Linked DNA regions of Homo sapiens. The protein of the gene in region 1 interacts with the protein of each later gene in a pairwise test. Each region holds a gene or a part of one and is shown in the gene's direction. Other genes may lie near its edges.

What was found. Proteins that work in one complex are often made in the same cells at the same time.
Region 2: the proteins of LUZP4 (region 1) and BACH2 interact in binary tests that used the Homo sapiens proteins (3 or more experiments, as listed by UniProt).

What each region holds. Positions count from the first base shown.
Region 1 is NC_000023.11:115,284,892-115,292,718, forward strand, and holds the start of LUZP4 (leucine zipper protein 4), read left to right. Parts: upstream 1-4,823; 5' UTR 4,824-4,868; coding exon 4,869-4,959; intron 4,960-7,827. UniProt on the Homo sapiens protein: Export adapter involved in mRNA nuclear export in cancer cells. Binds and enhances the RNA-binding activity of the nuclear RNA export factor NXF1. Can restore mRNA export function in cells compromised by loss of mRNA export adapters.
Region 2 is NC_000006.12:89,950,844-89,957,867, reverse strand, and holds part of BACH2 (transcription regulator protein BACH2), read left to right. Parts: intron 1-6,005; coding exon 6,006-7,024. UniProt on the Homo sapiens protein: Transcriptional regulator that acts as a repressor or activator. Binds to Maf recognition elements (MARE). Plays an important role in coordinating transcription activation and repression by MAFK.

The sequences.
Region 1 (7,827 bases):
TAACTCATTGAAGTAGGCAGTAATCTAGCTTCTGCTTTAATATTCACAGTGTCAAGTATGTCAGTTCAATGCAGCTTCTCCTGTTGTAGTTTCGTCCCATTGTTTTAGTTTTCATTATTAGAAAGTTTGTCTCTATATAGTGCAGAAATCTGTTTTCCTGTAATTTGGGTCAACTTGGGATAATGCTGCCCTCTCCTGCCAGACCGAATAATAAATTCACTCCCTCTTCCATAAAATTATTTGAAGACAGTTATTATGGTCCCCTGAGATTTCTGTTCTACGGGCAAAATTTCTTCAACCATGCTTCAGATGACATGATTTAAATCTCCTCACAAACCTGGTTGATTTTCTTTGGTTTCACTGCAGTTTGTCCGGTAACAACTGGTGCCCAAAACTGAAGCAAAAAGCAATGAATTGTCTCCTTTATATTTCTCTTGATGCCAATAGAAAGAGTTCTTAGTTGAATGTGACAAATCCTAGCTGCTTTAAGCATAGAAGAAATTTATTGAAAGCCTGTTATGTTACATAGCTCAAGGAATAGCCATGACGTCTAAAGAATCAAGCTCAGGAAAAAGTGCAGGAACCAAGAGAGGTGAGAAATTTATAGTATTAGCTAAAATCACACATCAAAACGAATCTGAAGAGGCCACCACTGCCACACACTAGATACTGTGATTTGCAACACTGCCATTGCTGCCTCAAGAAACTGGCTTTTGCTGTTGCCACTGCTGTTGCCAGAATTCCACACTGTCCCTGCTGTTTTGTTTTGTTTTGTTTGAGACAGGATCTTGCTCTGTCTCTCAGATTGGAGTTGCAGTGGTGAGATAATGGCTCACTGCAGCCTCTGCCTCCCTGGCTCAAGCGATCCCCCCATCTCAGCCTCCTGAGTAGCTGGGACCACAGGTATGCACCACTACGCCTGGCTAATTTTTTAATTTTTTGTAGAGACGGGGTCTCACATTGTTGTCACTTTGTTGGCTGACCTCGAACTCCAGGGCTCAAGGGATCCTCCCGCCTCAACCTCTCAAAGTGCTGAGATTACAGGCATGAGCACCACGCCAAGACTGATGTTTTAAAAGGCTCACTTTGGTTTCTGCGTGGTTTTGCAAGTCTGTCCCTGGATGCTAGATTTGTGCTCATTCTTCGAATTTGAGAGAACCTATTTGAATGAAGGCAGAGAAGTTCAACTAAGAGAAGTGAAAGTTATGCAAGATCAAATTAATCAAATAACAAGCAATTTCAAGCAAAGCACGATGTCTTTCAAAGTTATCTCCTGGTCCCATCTCTACTATGGCTCAATTCTGAAACCTAGGGAGAAAGGAAATTCATTGATTATTTCCTTACTTCCTTTTGTTTATTTTTATTTATTAATTTAATTTATTTATTTGAAACAGAGTCTGGCTCTGTCGCCCAGGCTGGAGTGTGGTGGTGCAATCTCAGCTCACTGCAATCTCTGCCTCCTGTGTTCAAGCAATTCTCCTGCCTCAGCTTCCCAAGCAGCTGGGATTACAGGCGCACACCACCATGCACGGCTAATTTGTGTATTTTTGGTACAGTTGGGGTTTCACCATGTTGGCCAGGCTGGTCTGGAATTCCTGACCTCAAGTGATCTGCCTGTCTTGGCCTCCCAAAGTGCTGGGATTACAGGTGTTAGCCACTGGGCCGGCCTCCCTTTTCTTTATTTCTAATGTGTCTCTCTTTGCTAGCTCCTTTCTCATGACCTATAAGCATGTTTAATTTAATCTCTTCCATTAAAAAAAAACTACCCTCATGTCCTTTGTAGGGACATGGATGAAGCTGGAAACCATCATTCTCAGCAAACTATTGCAAGGACAGAAAACCAAACACTGCATGTTCTCACTCATAGGTGGGAATTGAACAATGAAAACACATGGACACAGGAAGGGGCACATCACACTATGGGGCCTGTTGTGGGGTGGGGGGAGGGGGGAGGGATAGCATTAGGAGATATACCTAATGTAAATGACGAGTTAATGGGTGTAGCACACCAACATGGCACATGTATACATATGTAACAAAGTTGCACGTTGTGCACATGTACCCTAAAACTTAAAGTATAATTAAAAAAAAACCACCCTATACTACCTTGTGTAAAGGTAGTAGTTACAAGCGTGATTTTTAGAGCTGAACTGCATGGGTTTGAAGTAATTGCAACATTTACCAGCTCTGTGTCCTTGGGCAATTTTTTAAATGTCTTTGTGCCTTCTTTTCCTTGCTGGTAAAAGGAGATAATATTATTTCTCATGGGGTTATTGTGAAGATTAAATTATTGAATATTTGTAAAGCTCTCAGAACAATGCCGGGCAGATAGTAAATGCTTTATGTGTTTGTTAAATAAAAATTAGTTGTTTATCAGTTTATAGCCTGCTAGAACTCTGCTGAAGGTAAAAACCGGATCTCATAATTACTAAATTTAATGAATTAATCAGTTCTTAGCTTATTTGACTTTCTATCAACCCTTGACAAGATGGACCCGTCGGTTCCTCCTGGAGTTCTCCCTTAATAAATGAATACCTCTTTCCTGGTTCTACCCATATCTCTCTGATATTTTCTACTCAATGTTCTTTTTAATTTTCTTGGGGTTCTATCTTTGATCCTCTTTCATTCTCACTTCATACCTGACAGAAAAATAAATCTGACAGAAAAAAAGGCCCAAACCATTAGCATAATATATTATAAAAGTCACTCCATGATCTAATATCTGTTGATCTCTTTAGACTCATCTCTCAGTACCCACCACATGGAATGAATAGAACTTTCCACAGTGTGTTAGTGGTGCTGCTTCCTCTGCCAAGAAATACCATTCCCACCCCTACAATTATTCCCTAATTTCTCAGGATTTAAATAATTTTTTCTTGATTCCTTGGGTGAATTTTCTCCTTTGAATCCCAAATACATTTTGTACATACCTGTATCCTCAGAACCTAACACAGCAGGAGCTCAGTATTTGTTGACAGACTAAATTACAGCACCTAAATTAATATTTTGCATGCATTTATTGTCTTCAGGCAATTGTATATGCATGGAGAAACAGATTTATTTATTAATCTTTAGGTCCCAGGTGCGAAGCATTTACTTAAATACAATAAATAGTTAAATAATTTACATTTTTCAAAATCTCTTCCGGCATTTATTTATGTTGTGGATTCTGTAATAGCTTGAACATATTTTTACCTTTGAAAATGTATTAATTTGATTTTTATTTCTACTGAAGAGCCAGTGACAAGATTTCTCTAATATTTTAAAGTAGCATTTGATTGAGCAGTATTAGGTGATAACAAGAACAATTACATTTTTCTTAAGAAATGTCATGGACACATCTTCAAGGTCATTGAACAGCATGTGGCAGGCCGGGTATGGTGGCTCATGCCTGTAATCCCAGCACTTTGGGAGGCCAAGGTGGGAGGATTGCTTGAGGCCAGGAGTTTGAGATCAGCTTGGCCAACATGGTGAGATCCCCATCTCTACAGCCCAAGAGGAGCCTGGGAGGTTAAGGCATGCCAACCTTGGCAACAGATCGAGGAAAGAAAGAAAAAAGAAAAGAAAGAAAAGAAAGAAAAAGAAAGGAAGGAAGGAAGGAAAAAAGGAAGGAAGGAAGCAAGGAAGCAAGGGAGAGAAGGGAAGGGAAGGGGAGGGGAGGGGAGGGGAGGGAAGGGAAGGGAATAGCCGGGTGTGGTGAGGGAGGAAGGCCGAGGCGGGTGGAAAGAGAGAAGTTAGGAAGAAGGAAGGAAGGGAGGGAGGGAGGGAGGAAGGAAGGAAGGAAAAGAAAGAGAGGAAGGAAGGAAGAAAGAGAGAGAGAAAGAAAGAAAAAAAGAAAGAAAGGGAAAAGAAAGAAAGAGAAAAAGAAAGAAAGAAAGAAAAGAAAGAGAAAGAAAAGAAAGAAAGGAAGAAAGGAAGGAAGGAAAAGAAATAACCAGGTGCGGTGAGGGAGGGATGCCAAGGCAGATGGAAAGAAAGAAGTTAGGAAGAAGAAAGAGAGGGTGGGAGGGAGGAAGGGAGGGAGGGAGGAAGGAAGGAAGGAAAGAAGGAAGGGAGGGACAGAGGGAGGGAGGGAAAGTGTGGGCGCTGTGGTATGAGGGTAGCACAGACGGGTAGATCACTTGAGCCCAGGAGACCAGCCTGGCCAACATGGTGAAACCCTATCTCTACTAAAAACACAAAAATTAGCCAGGCGTGGTGGCGCGCTCCTGTAATCTCAGCTACTTGGGAGGCTGACGTGGGAGAATCGCTTGAACCCCAGAGGCGGAGGTTGCAGTGAACGGAGTTGGCGCCACTTCACGCCAGCCTGGGTGACAAAGAGATACTGTGTCTCAAAAAAACAAAAAACAAAAAACAAAAACGAAAAGAAAGACAGAAAAGAAAGCGTGTGGCATTGCAAACCTGTGAATCCTCCCTAGATGTTAAATTTGTGCTCCCTCTTGGAATTTGAGAGAAGCAGAGCATCAGCCCATTAAGTCAAGATTATAAGGTTTTATTCGCCATGAATGTCAACAGCAAAGAGGAGAAATGGGTCCTAGGAACTGTGAAAGGCAAGGGCCGGAACACCACATACACTAGAAACTTGTAGCCAACTACATAGTGCTCTAGGTGGAGAGAATATTTTTAGAAAGGGGTATCGGGTGGGAGATGGGCGGGTCTTTCCTTTTTTTTTCTTCTAGCGAGCCAAGCTCCTGATAGGAGACTTGGTGAGGGGTAACGCCAAGCTCCACCCCTTGGGGCTTAGCAACACCGAAGGGAGAGGCTATGATTGGAGGATCAGGTTAGTCCACCACTCTGCTCCTCCTGCGCGGTGAGGGGGTGGTACACGCGCCCTACCTCGGAGTGTGTGGCGCCATGATGCAGGGAAGATGGCTTCGTTTCGGAAGCTAACGCTTTCTGAAAAAGTGCCGCCAAATCATCCCAGTCGGAAAAAGGTTAACTTCCTAGATATGTCTCTAGGTATGTAGATCTCGGATCCCAGTCTCCACTAGTTTGGGCTCACTGGTCTTGAGCGCAAGACCTCGGCATAGCGCTTACTAGAAGTGGCGTCGGGAGGAACACACCAGTTCGAGGAGAGGCTTCCCCTTCAGGGCATCTCCGCACCTGCCCCACCCTGACGAACCCTGGGACCACTTGGCCCCTATCCCTCCTCTCCTCTTTTTCTCCTCACCTCCAGCCCTCTCCTTTCAGGTGGGGAACTGAGGGAGGCTGACCAGAAGCGCGTGGGGATTAAGGATTGCTGAAAGGGGCAGGCGGAGAAAATAGACCGCTATTAACGTGTATTTTACTCTCCTAAGAATTGATACCTAACTACTGGCCTCCTTCAAACACATGGAGCCAAGTGCTCTTCTCAGTCCAAGCGGATGTCATAAATCACTAGATTCCAGGGCCCGGAGGAGCAAGCCTTAGGCTATTTTACTAGGGATCCCGGCGTGGTAGTGCTAGGAGTTGTTGGTGGGTTGGTGTATCTGCTTTGTTGGCTGGTGGTTATTCGAAGGGGTGGTTGGTCCATTTATTTGCTTGTTGGCTGGTGGTTATTCGCTCTGGATAGCCTTTCTTTGCTGGCGCTCTCTAGTCTCTAACCTGAGACCTCTACACGGAGAGTGGAACCTTAGAAAAAAGAACTCCTTTATCAAGGCCCCTAACCTCCTCCATTCGCACCAAACCCAGAAAAAGTGGATTTTACTTGGACCAGTTCCTCTGCTATTATCCATCTTAGAAATGGGGGAGGAGGGGAGGGAATAGACTTTCCAAGCCAGATAGGGAGTGAGCAGAGCTGAGTAGAGAGGATGGAAGCTGACTTTAGAAATGGAGAAGGGCATCAGAGCACGGAAGAAGGAAACTGTAGAAATGGGGGAAGGAGGACAAAACAGAAAAGGGCTACTTTAGTTAGGGGTGTGTGTGTGTGTGTGAAACGTGCTTGCTCTGTTTCTCAGGCAGGTGTGCAGTGGCATCATCTTGGCTCAGTGCAGCCTCCGCCCCCTGGGGTCAAGCGATCCTCCCACCTCAGTCGACAGAGTAGCTGGGACTACAGGCACGCGCCACCACACCTGTCTAGGTTTTTGTTTTTTTGTTTTGTTTTGTTTTGTTTTTTAGTAGAGCGAGGTTTCACCATGTTGCCCAGACTGGTCTCCTGGTCTCAAGTGATCCGCCCTTCTCGGCCTCCCAAAGTCCTGGGATTACAGGCATAAGCCACCGCCCCCGGCCTAGTTAGTTATTTTTGAGATAAGGTCAGGGACTGTTGTCTGGGTTGGAGTGTAGTGGCACGATCACGGCTCACTGTGGCCTCAAGCTCTCAGGCTCAATCAAGTGATCCTACCACCTCAGCCTCTCGAGTAGCTGGAACCACAGGTGCTCACTACCATGCCCACCTAATTTTTAAATTTTTGTAGAGATTGGGTCTCCTTATGTTGCCCAGGCTGGTCTCGAACTCCTGGCCTCAAGCAATCCTCCCGGCTCGGCCTCCCAAAATGATGGGATTGTGGGCCTGAGCCACTGCGCCTGGCCAAGGGCCACTTTAGAAATGAGAGGGGGAGAGGCAGAGCAGTGGGAGCTGAGCTTCAATGTGGAAGCGCAGGAGTGGAGCAAGGAGAAGCAGGAACAAGGAGGGTGGACCTCAGAAATTGATGGAGCAGTGGAAAGAGGGTTCACCTTAGAGATGAGGGTAGGGGAGCAGAGCAGGGAGGGCTGAACTTTAAAAGGGGCAGGATAAGTGGAGGGAGAGTGTACCATAGAAATGAAGAGGGTCAGCTGGGCTTGGTGGCTCATTCATGTAATCCCAGCACTTTGGGAGGTTGAGGTGGGTGGCTCACTTGAGGCCAGGAGTTCGAGACCAGCCTGGCCAACATGGTGAAACCCCATCTCTACTAAAAATACAAAGATTAGCTGGGCATGGTGTTGCGTGCCTGTAGTCCCAGCTATGCAGGAGGCTGAGGCAGGAGAATTGCTTGAACCTGGGAGATGGAGGCTGCAGTGAGTTGAGATCGCCCCACTGCACTCCAGCCTGGGTGCCAGAGTGAGACTTCATCTCAGAAAAAAAAAAAAGTAATGAAATGAAGAGGGGCGCCATGGCTCATGCCTGTAATCCCAGGAGGCAGAGGTCAGGCTGGTCTTGGAACTCCTGACCTCAAGTGATACACCCACCTCGGCCTCACACAGTGCTGCGATTACAGGCGTGGGCCACCTCACCCGGCCTAAACTTTCTTTATAGTGTCCTTTGAAGTCCCGAAGTTTCAGAATTTGATAAAATACAATTTATCTGTTTTTTGTTGTTGTTCATGCTTTGGTGTCAAATCTAGAAGATCATGAAGATCATACCCTTGTTTCCTTCTGAGAGTTTTCTAGTTTTAACTCTTAAATTTACATCTGTGATCCATTTTGAGTTAATTCTTGTATATGGGGTGAGTTAAGAGCCAACTTCATTCTGTTGCATTTTGATGTCTAATTGTTCCAACACTACTTGTTAAAAAGACTAATTTTCCTCCATTGAAAGCTCTTCTTGGTGGAATTGCTTTCTTAATTTCGTTTTTGGATAGTTCATTGCTGGTATATGTACATAGAATTAATTTTTGCATATAGATCTTGTATCCTGCAGCCTTGCTGAGTGTGTTCATTAGTGCTAATCTCCGTGTGTGTGTGTGTATCTTTAGGAATTTCTGCATACAAGATCATGATATCTGAGAACAGAGATTTACTTTTTTCTAATCTGCTTGCCTTTCATTCTTTTTCTTGACTAATTGCTCTGGATGGAATTTCTAGCAAAATGTTAATTAGATGCGGTGAGATTGGACATCCTTGACTTGTTTCTGATCTTAGGGAGAAAAGCTT
Region 2 (7,024 bases), on another chromosome or scaffold:
AGCTCTATCTAAAATTCATAATAAAATTGCCCAGGCACAATGGCTAACACTTGTAATCCCAATACTTTGGGAGGTCAAAATAGACGGATTGCTTGAGTCCAGGAGTTTGAGACCACCTGGGCAACATAGTGAAACCCCGTCTCTACTAAAAATACAAAAATTAGCTGGGCATAGTGGTATATGCCGATAGTCCCAGCTATTCAAGAGGCTGAGTTGGGAGAATCACCTGAGCCCCAAAGGTTGAGGCTGCAGTAAGTGGCAAGATCATGCCACTGCACTCCAGCCTGGACAACCAGTATGAGACCCTGTCAGTAAATAAATAAATAAAATTAATACGAGGCCAGATGTGGTGGCTTACACCTGTAATTCTAGTACTTTGGGAGGCTGAGGCAGGAGGATCCCTTGAGCCCAGGAGTTCAAGACAAGCCTGGGCAACATAGGGAGACCCTGTCTGTAAAAATAGATAAAATAAAAATTAATACTAAAATAACCAGAAGCTTTGTTGAAATAGTAAGGTGAATTAATTTGACAAATACTTTCTAAATGTCTAGCATGCTGCTTTGGAAGAAGAATGTGATAATGTGGATATGAATTATAGAAAATTAAGATGAGGAGTGATGCCTGATCACTAAGTCAGTTTTCATCCTGCAGAGTGGGTTGCAGTGCAGTAAGAGAGTGGGAAGGGAGAGTTAATTGTCACCAGCATTGCTTTCATCATTTGACAAGTGCCTTGCTGTGCAAATACAACCCAGAGGGGTTGTCAGTGGTCTAGCGTTTTAAAAAGCCCTTGGGCAGGGGTTCATTACCTTTATCTTCCTGGTTCCTGCAGTGTGTAAGAGATTCAGCTTCATCAGGAAAGTGTACATGGTGTTGCTGAAGATGTAAGTTTCCCTTTTTTGTGAAGTTGTGATTAAGGGACCTTGAGAAGCGTGCCAGCCCTCTCCCAGGGAGCAGTCACCTGTCCTCCGGATTCATCTGATCAGCCTTCTGCAGATGGGCTCAATGCTACAGCCATGTGTATATACTGCCAAAACCAACTGGAGACACCTTAGTCATGTAGCTTATATAGAGAATGATGTTCCAAGTCTCAAAAATCCTCAAACCCTATTTTCAATAAATGCCTGAAGGCTGACTGCCTCATCCCTATCATAGTCCAGAGATGGAACTGTTGTAAGTATCCTCATAAACTCTGTCCTGCAGCAAAATGGATGTCTCATGAAACACTGAGCTCCCCAAAACACTGAGCTCCCCAAAACACTGAGCTCCCCAGCTTTGCAAACAGTGCCCAAACTTTCTCTACAAATTGAGTTTTCATCAGCCCATCTTCCTTTCAGCAGAGAGATGATATGTTAGAATCCAATGTAATGAAGGATTAAGGGTCATAGTTACAGTGGGTCAAATTTCAACACATTGTCAGCATGTTGACTTGCACCATCGGACACGGTACCCTGGCCTTATTTCTTTCAGGGTTGAACCAACTATGTGCCAACTGCTAGCTGAGGTCATCACCTCCTAGGAAGCAGTCTGTGGGAGGTTGGAGGGTTAACTTTCTGCCTTCTCCGAGGTCTCGCCCCCACATGGCACACTGTATTCTGGCCCCAATGTGTGATCCCATCTCATCTGTATCAGAATGAGTATTGCACAGTATGAGACCAGGTAGTTACATATTTAAGTGCAATGAAAAAATGTTCTTCGAAATGAGGCATTCAAAATATTTTCATTCAAAATGCAAGACTGTTATCCCAAGTTGTCCCTAACACCATATTTTGCATTTGTTTCTCATACCTTGAGGCCACTGCTGACCAGTGGATTTTAGTCTAGATGGGTCTGCTTAGAGCAGAGGGATGCAACTCCATTAACATCAGTGAGTTGGAACTATTCTTCTATTTATAGCCACTTCATTCCATTTTAACTTTATGATCATTACTTTTTAAAATACCATTTTATGAGTTGTTAGTTTTGCGTGTAATTCTCCACCTCCCACCCCCCTCTTATTTTTTCCCATTATTAGAGCCTTATTTGTTAAGAACAAAAAGTAAGTAACAATGCAGACTTGTGGTCACAGTTTCATGAACATACAGCTTTTCACTGGTACCTGAATATTTGCCTTCTGAGTATAATGAATGAATTTAAATGGTCCCTAAAAATGGGTAGACAGTGCCACCTTCTCAAGATGGAGGCTAAGCCAGTATTTAGAAAGCCTCTGCCTGTTGTAACACTTGCTGGCAGGTGTGATGGGCACTTGCTTTCTGTTTTGTGTATCTGGAGCGATTACCACTGCCGAAAGTAGACCAGAGATGGGTTCCTGGGAGGGACCCTTGTGACAGTTCCGAAAGTAGCCATCGTATCAAAGCAACCCTTGACCTAGAGCAGACACTCAAGGCGTGCTGATAAAAGTGTTCAAGGGGCCCCCTTGCTAGTCCCCTCAGCCTCAGTAGTCTCCTATCCTGAACTTGTCTGGATTTCTCAGTTGACAACTACTCATATAATCTTGCAATGGCTTTTCCATTGTTGACTTGCTTACATTGTTACTTAGTTAACTTTTCATCATTTGTACCTCTTCTACAAAGCTAAATCTTAGATCTCTTGAGCACAGGCCTGAGTCCTACACATATCCTTCCCTCACACCACTAGCACAGAAGAAGAAACAGACTGGACTTGGTTTGGAATCCTAGCTCTCCACTGACTAGCACTGACCATGGATAAACTCCTTCACCTCCCTGCTTCATAGTTTCCTTATCTACAGAATAAGGGCAGTCATGCCTGCCTTGCAGGGTGTTACAAGAGCACAGTGCTGGGCACTAGGAGATACTTGGTAAATGGTCATTCTGGCTCACCAAACAAAGCCTCACACACAGAAGCTGAGCAAAATCTTGCAGACTTAAATATGACAAAGCAGGACTGAAACCAGAATGGGAGAAGAGCTAGTTATGAGCTCTTGAACTTTCATGGTGAGGACACCATTTCCTCTGCCCTTGGGCTTAAGTGACAGTTTACAAACCAGATTTTTTATCTATGACTCTTTCATGACCATATGACGATCATTTCAAGCTCAGGAAGTTTCCTAAGCCTCAGTGATCTAAGGAGTGCCATTGATTTGTGATGTGGAGACTTTGCTCATTCACCTCCTTGGTCCAATTCATACATTTAAGCATCAGCTCGTCCCTGAGCGGAGATGCTTTCTCCAGCTCCTTGCAGCCATGTGGCAGAGGGTGACTCCCAGTACTGCTTCCTGATCTACAGATCCCCATGGATGTCCCTGGCTTCTTTAGAAATTTTCTTTACAAGAGGCCACAGTGGAAGATAGTGGTAAGACTTACTTAGACCTACAGCATCAAAAAAAAAAAAAATGGTGATAAGGATGGGAGTATGAGAAAAACTGTGTGAACACTCTGGGGACTGTTGTGGGGTGGGGGGAGGGGGGAGGGATAGCATTAGGAGATATACCTAATGCTAAATGACTAGTTAATGGGTGCAGCACACCAGCATGACACATGTGTACATATGTAACCTGCACATTATGCACATGTACCCTAAAACTTAAAGCATAATAATAATAAAAAAAAAAAGAAAAACTGTGTGAACAGTATAAATAGCATTGAAATTAGTTTCCTACATTTCCCATATAGTGAGCACCTTTGCCAAAACTCAAGAAGTGTCTTATCCACCCTTTTGGCAACTGGCACATTACAGAGGAGCATAGGATCATTACGAGGGCAGGGGTCAACTCTGCATTGATTTCACCATTTCTTTCTTTGTGGTGGAGCCATGTGGCAGTAAAGGAATAGGTCATGTGACATTCTTGTCATCTTCTTCAGTTACCTATAAATACACATTTCCTTGCTTTTTTACTTTCTTTTAAAGATTCTTGGAAGAAAAGGACATAAAACAGATGTATTGTCAGTACTACATTTGCTGAACCTATTACCATGTCAGCTTAGCAGGATACAAAAGTGTCGGTCAGACCTCCTTTTTAATACTGGTACTGTGACACGGGGCAAACAAAGACCCTTGCCTGCCTGCCTTTGATCAGTTGATCGGTTCAGTTAGTTGGTTTACATGATGCCTTGCTCCAAAAGTAACTTGAGACAACACTCTCTAAACATACTGTGTTGTCACCTTGCATACACAGTAGTAGTATGTTAGGACACAGTTTGACTCATGACATATTTGGTAACATACAAGCTTTTAACAAGTATTTACCATGTGAGAGACCCCAGGTTAGATTAGATGCAAGGTTACAAAGACAGACAAAACCATTCCTGATCTGAAGGAGCTTGCTGTCTTATGGTAGAAACAGGCACAATTAGGTATAATAAAAGGGAGATGGCACTGATTGCCCATATAGAATTTATAATGTGGGTCTAGCAGTCATGGCTTTTTGTTTTGTTTTTTTAACCAAATATCTCTGGACTCATCATCTGACAGAAAAATTTAATGTGGAATCTTACTTGAGTACTTTAAAAAGATTAACAATTAAAATCCCGTTCAGTTACATGTCTAAGAAATTTCCGTTACTGGAAAGAATGCAATGATATGAAATCAGTGCTGCCCTGGAGAATCCAGCACGTCTCCTCATCTGGCTATGAGAGCTGAGAGGACAATGTCATTCATTCTCTCTAAGAGGACTGGAGAGCACTCCCAAAGGAGTGAATGTCCAGGTTGAATCTTGAACATCAATTACAGGTCCTTGCAAGAATTTTGGCTCTGTATGCTGCGGTGAGTTTAATACACACAGAAGTCAGCTACAAAGTTTACCAGTTCACCTTGCTGTGCACTCACTCCCCCCGCTAAAATTTTGTATCACTGCTACCATAGCCTCTAGCAAGGACCCCATGATTGCTGCTTTCATTTGATTTGTACAGGATTTGTAGACATGCGTCACCTTCCTGTGTGGTCAGCAGTGCTTGCAAGAACCTAGAGGATGTGTGGTTTTATGTGCAGGGTAAGGAAGCTTACCCTGATGAACACCAGCAAGTTTAATCCATTTCCATCTGAAAAAACAATTGGCCTTAGGCAACATATTCTTAATTGTCTAAGTCATTGTGTGTGAGCAGGCATGCGTGTGGGCACACACGTGTTTGTGTGCATATGCAAGCTGTGCATAAATAGCACACTTTCAATCTTTGTAAAATATAACAGATAAGCAGCAAATGACAGTAGGCTTAGCCCCTGAAGATTTACCAGGAAAAAAAGACAGCTGCATGGCAAAGCTGCTGCTAATAATTAGGGAAGGAATAGCCCATACCCTGTGCCACTCAGCAGCTTCAACCATTTAAATGAGAGCCGGTTTGTTTAACTCTGCAACCCCCATTCATTATGGGCCAGGGGTTGATTTCATCTTGAGCACACCACTTTTGATTGTTGTCATCTCTGGTGAGATAATGAGATCATCATCATCATAAGATCAGGTAGACATGATGACCGAAAGTCTCAAGTAGAAACTGTGATGGATGAGCAAAACAGGAGTTGTTTTAATGTCTCTTTTAACATTGTAAGTGAGGAAAACCTATTTTTACAACTCCCTGGAGTTAGTTTTTTGCAGGGTCACATTGCCATTTTTGTGGTTGACAAGAAAACGTTAAGGCTCTCTTGGGCTCCAGCAAGCTGCAAGAAGTGTCACAACACTCCCCCCTCGTGTAGAATGGCTCTCAACAGGACTGATTGGGAGGGAAATTAATAGGCTCCCCATTGTCACCGTGCATTTTTGCCAGGATATTTCATTAGTGTAAACACTGAACCCGTTGTCATCTTGTTTAGCCACTTGACCCTGGTGATTTTCAATTCTGCCTGTGCTGTGATGGAGTACAACAGTGGCATGCACGAGACAGGCACTAATTATTGGAAGCAGAATCATTGCTGACCCAGTACTACAAGATTAACTGCCCCTTTGCAGTCTTTATTCTGGGACATTAGCACTGTCTGGTTATCTTGCTTCAGTTGAGGGATTCGGGACAATAGCAGTGCTGATGGTAATGTTGGCGATTTCCCTGTTTGTTTTGCAGGTCACAGCCAGGGGCTTTGGGCCGCTGTTACAGTTTGCCTACACTGCCAAGCTGTTACTCAGCAGAGAAAACATCCGCGAGGTCATCCGCTGTGCTGAGTTCCTGCGCATGCACAACCTGGAGGACTCCTGCTTCAGCTTCCTGCAGACCCAGCTCCTGAACAGTGAGGATGGCCTGTTTGTGTGCCGGAAGGATGCTGCGTGCCAGCGCCCACACGAGGACTGCGAGAACTCTGCAGGAGAGGAGGAGGATGAAGAGGAGGAGACGATGGATTCAGAGACGGCCAAGATGGCTTGCCCCAGGGACCAGATGCTTCCAGAGCCCATCAGCTTTGAGGCCGCCGCCATCCCCGTAGCAGAGAAGGAAGAAGCCCTGCTGCCCGAGCCTGACGTGCCCACAGACACCAAGGAGAGCTCAGAAAAGGACGCGTTAACGCAGTACCCCAGATACAAGAAATACCAGCTTGCATGTACCAAGAATGTCTATAATGCATCATCACACAGTACCTCAGGTTTTGCAAGCACATTCCGGGAAGATAACTCTAGCAACAGCCTCAAGCCGGGGCTTGCCAGGGGGCAGATTAAAAGTGAGCCGCCCAGTGAAGAGAATGAGGAAGAGAGCATCACGCTCTGCCTGTCTGGAGATGAGCCTGACGCCAAGGACAGAGCGGGGGATGTCGAGATGGACCGGAAACAGCCCAGCCCTGCCCCTACCCCCACGGCCCCAGCTGGGGCCGCCTGCCTGGAGAGATCCAGGAGCGTGGCCTCGCCCTCCTGCTTAAGGTCTCTGTTCAGCATAACGAAAAGTGTGGAGCTGTCTGGCCTGCCCAGTACATCTCAGCAGCACTTTGCCAGGAGTCCAGCCTGCCCTTTTGACAAGGGGATCACTCAGGGTGACCTTAAAACTGACTACACCCCTTTCACAGGGAATTATGGACAGCCCCACGTGGGCCAGAAGGAGGTGTCCAACTTCACCATGGGGTCGCCCCTCAGGGGGCCTGGGTTGGAGGCTCTCTGTAA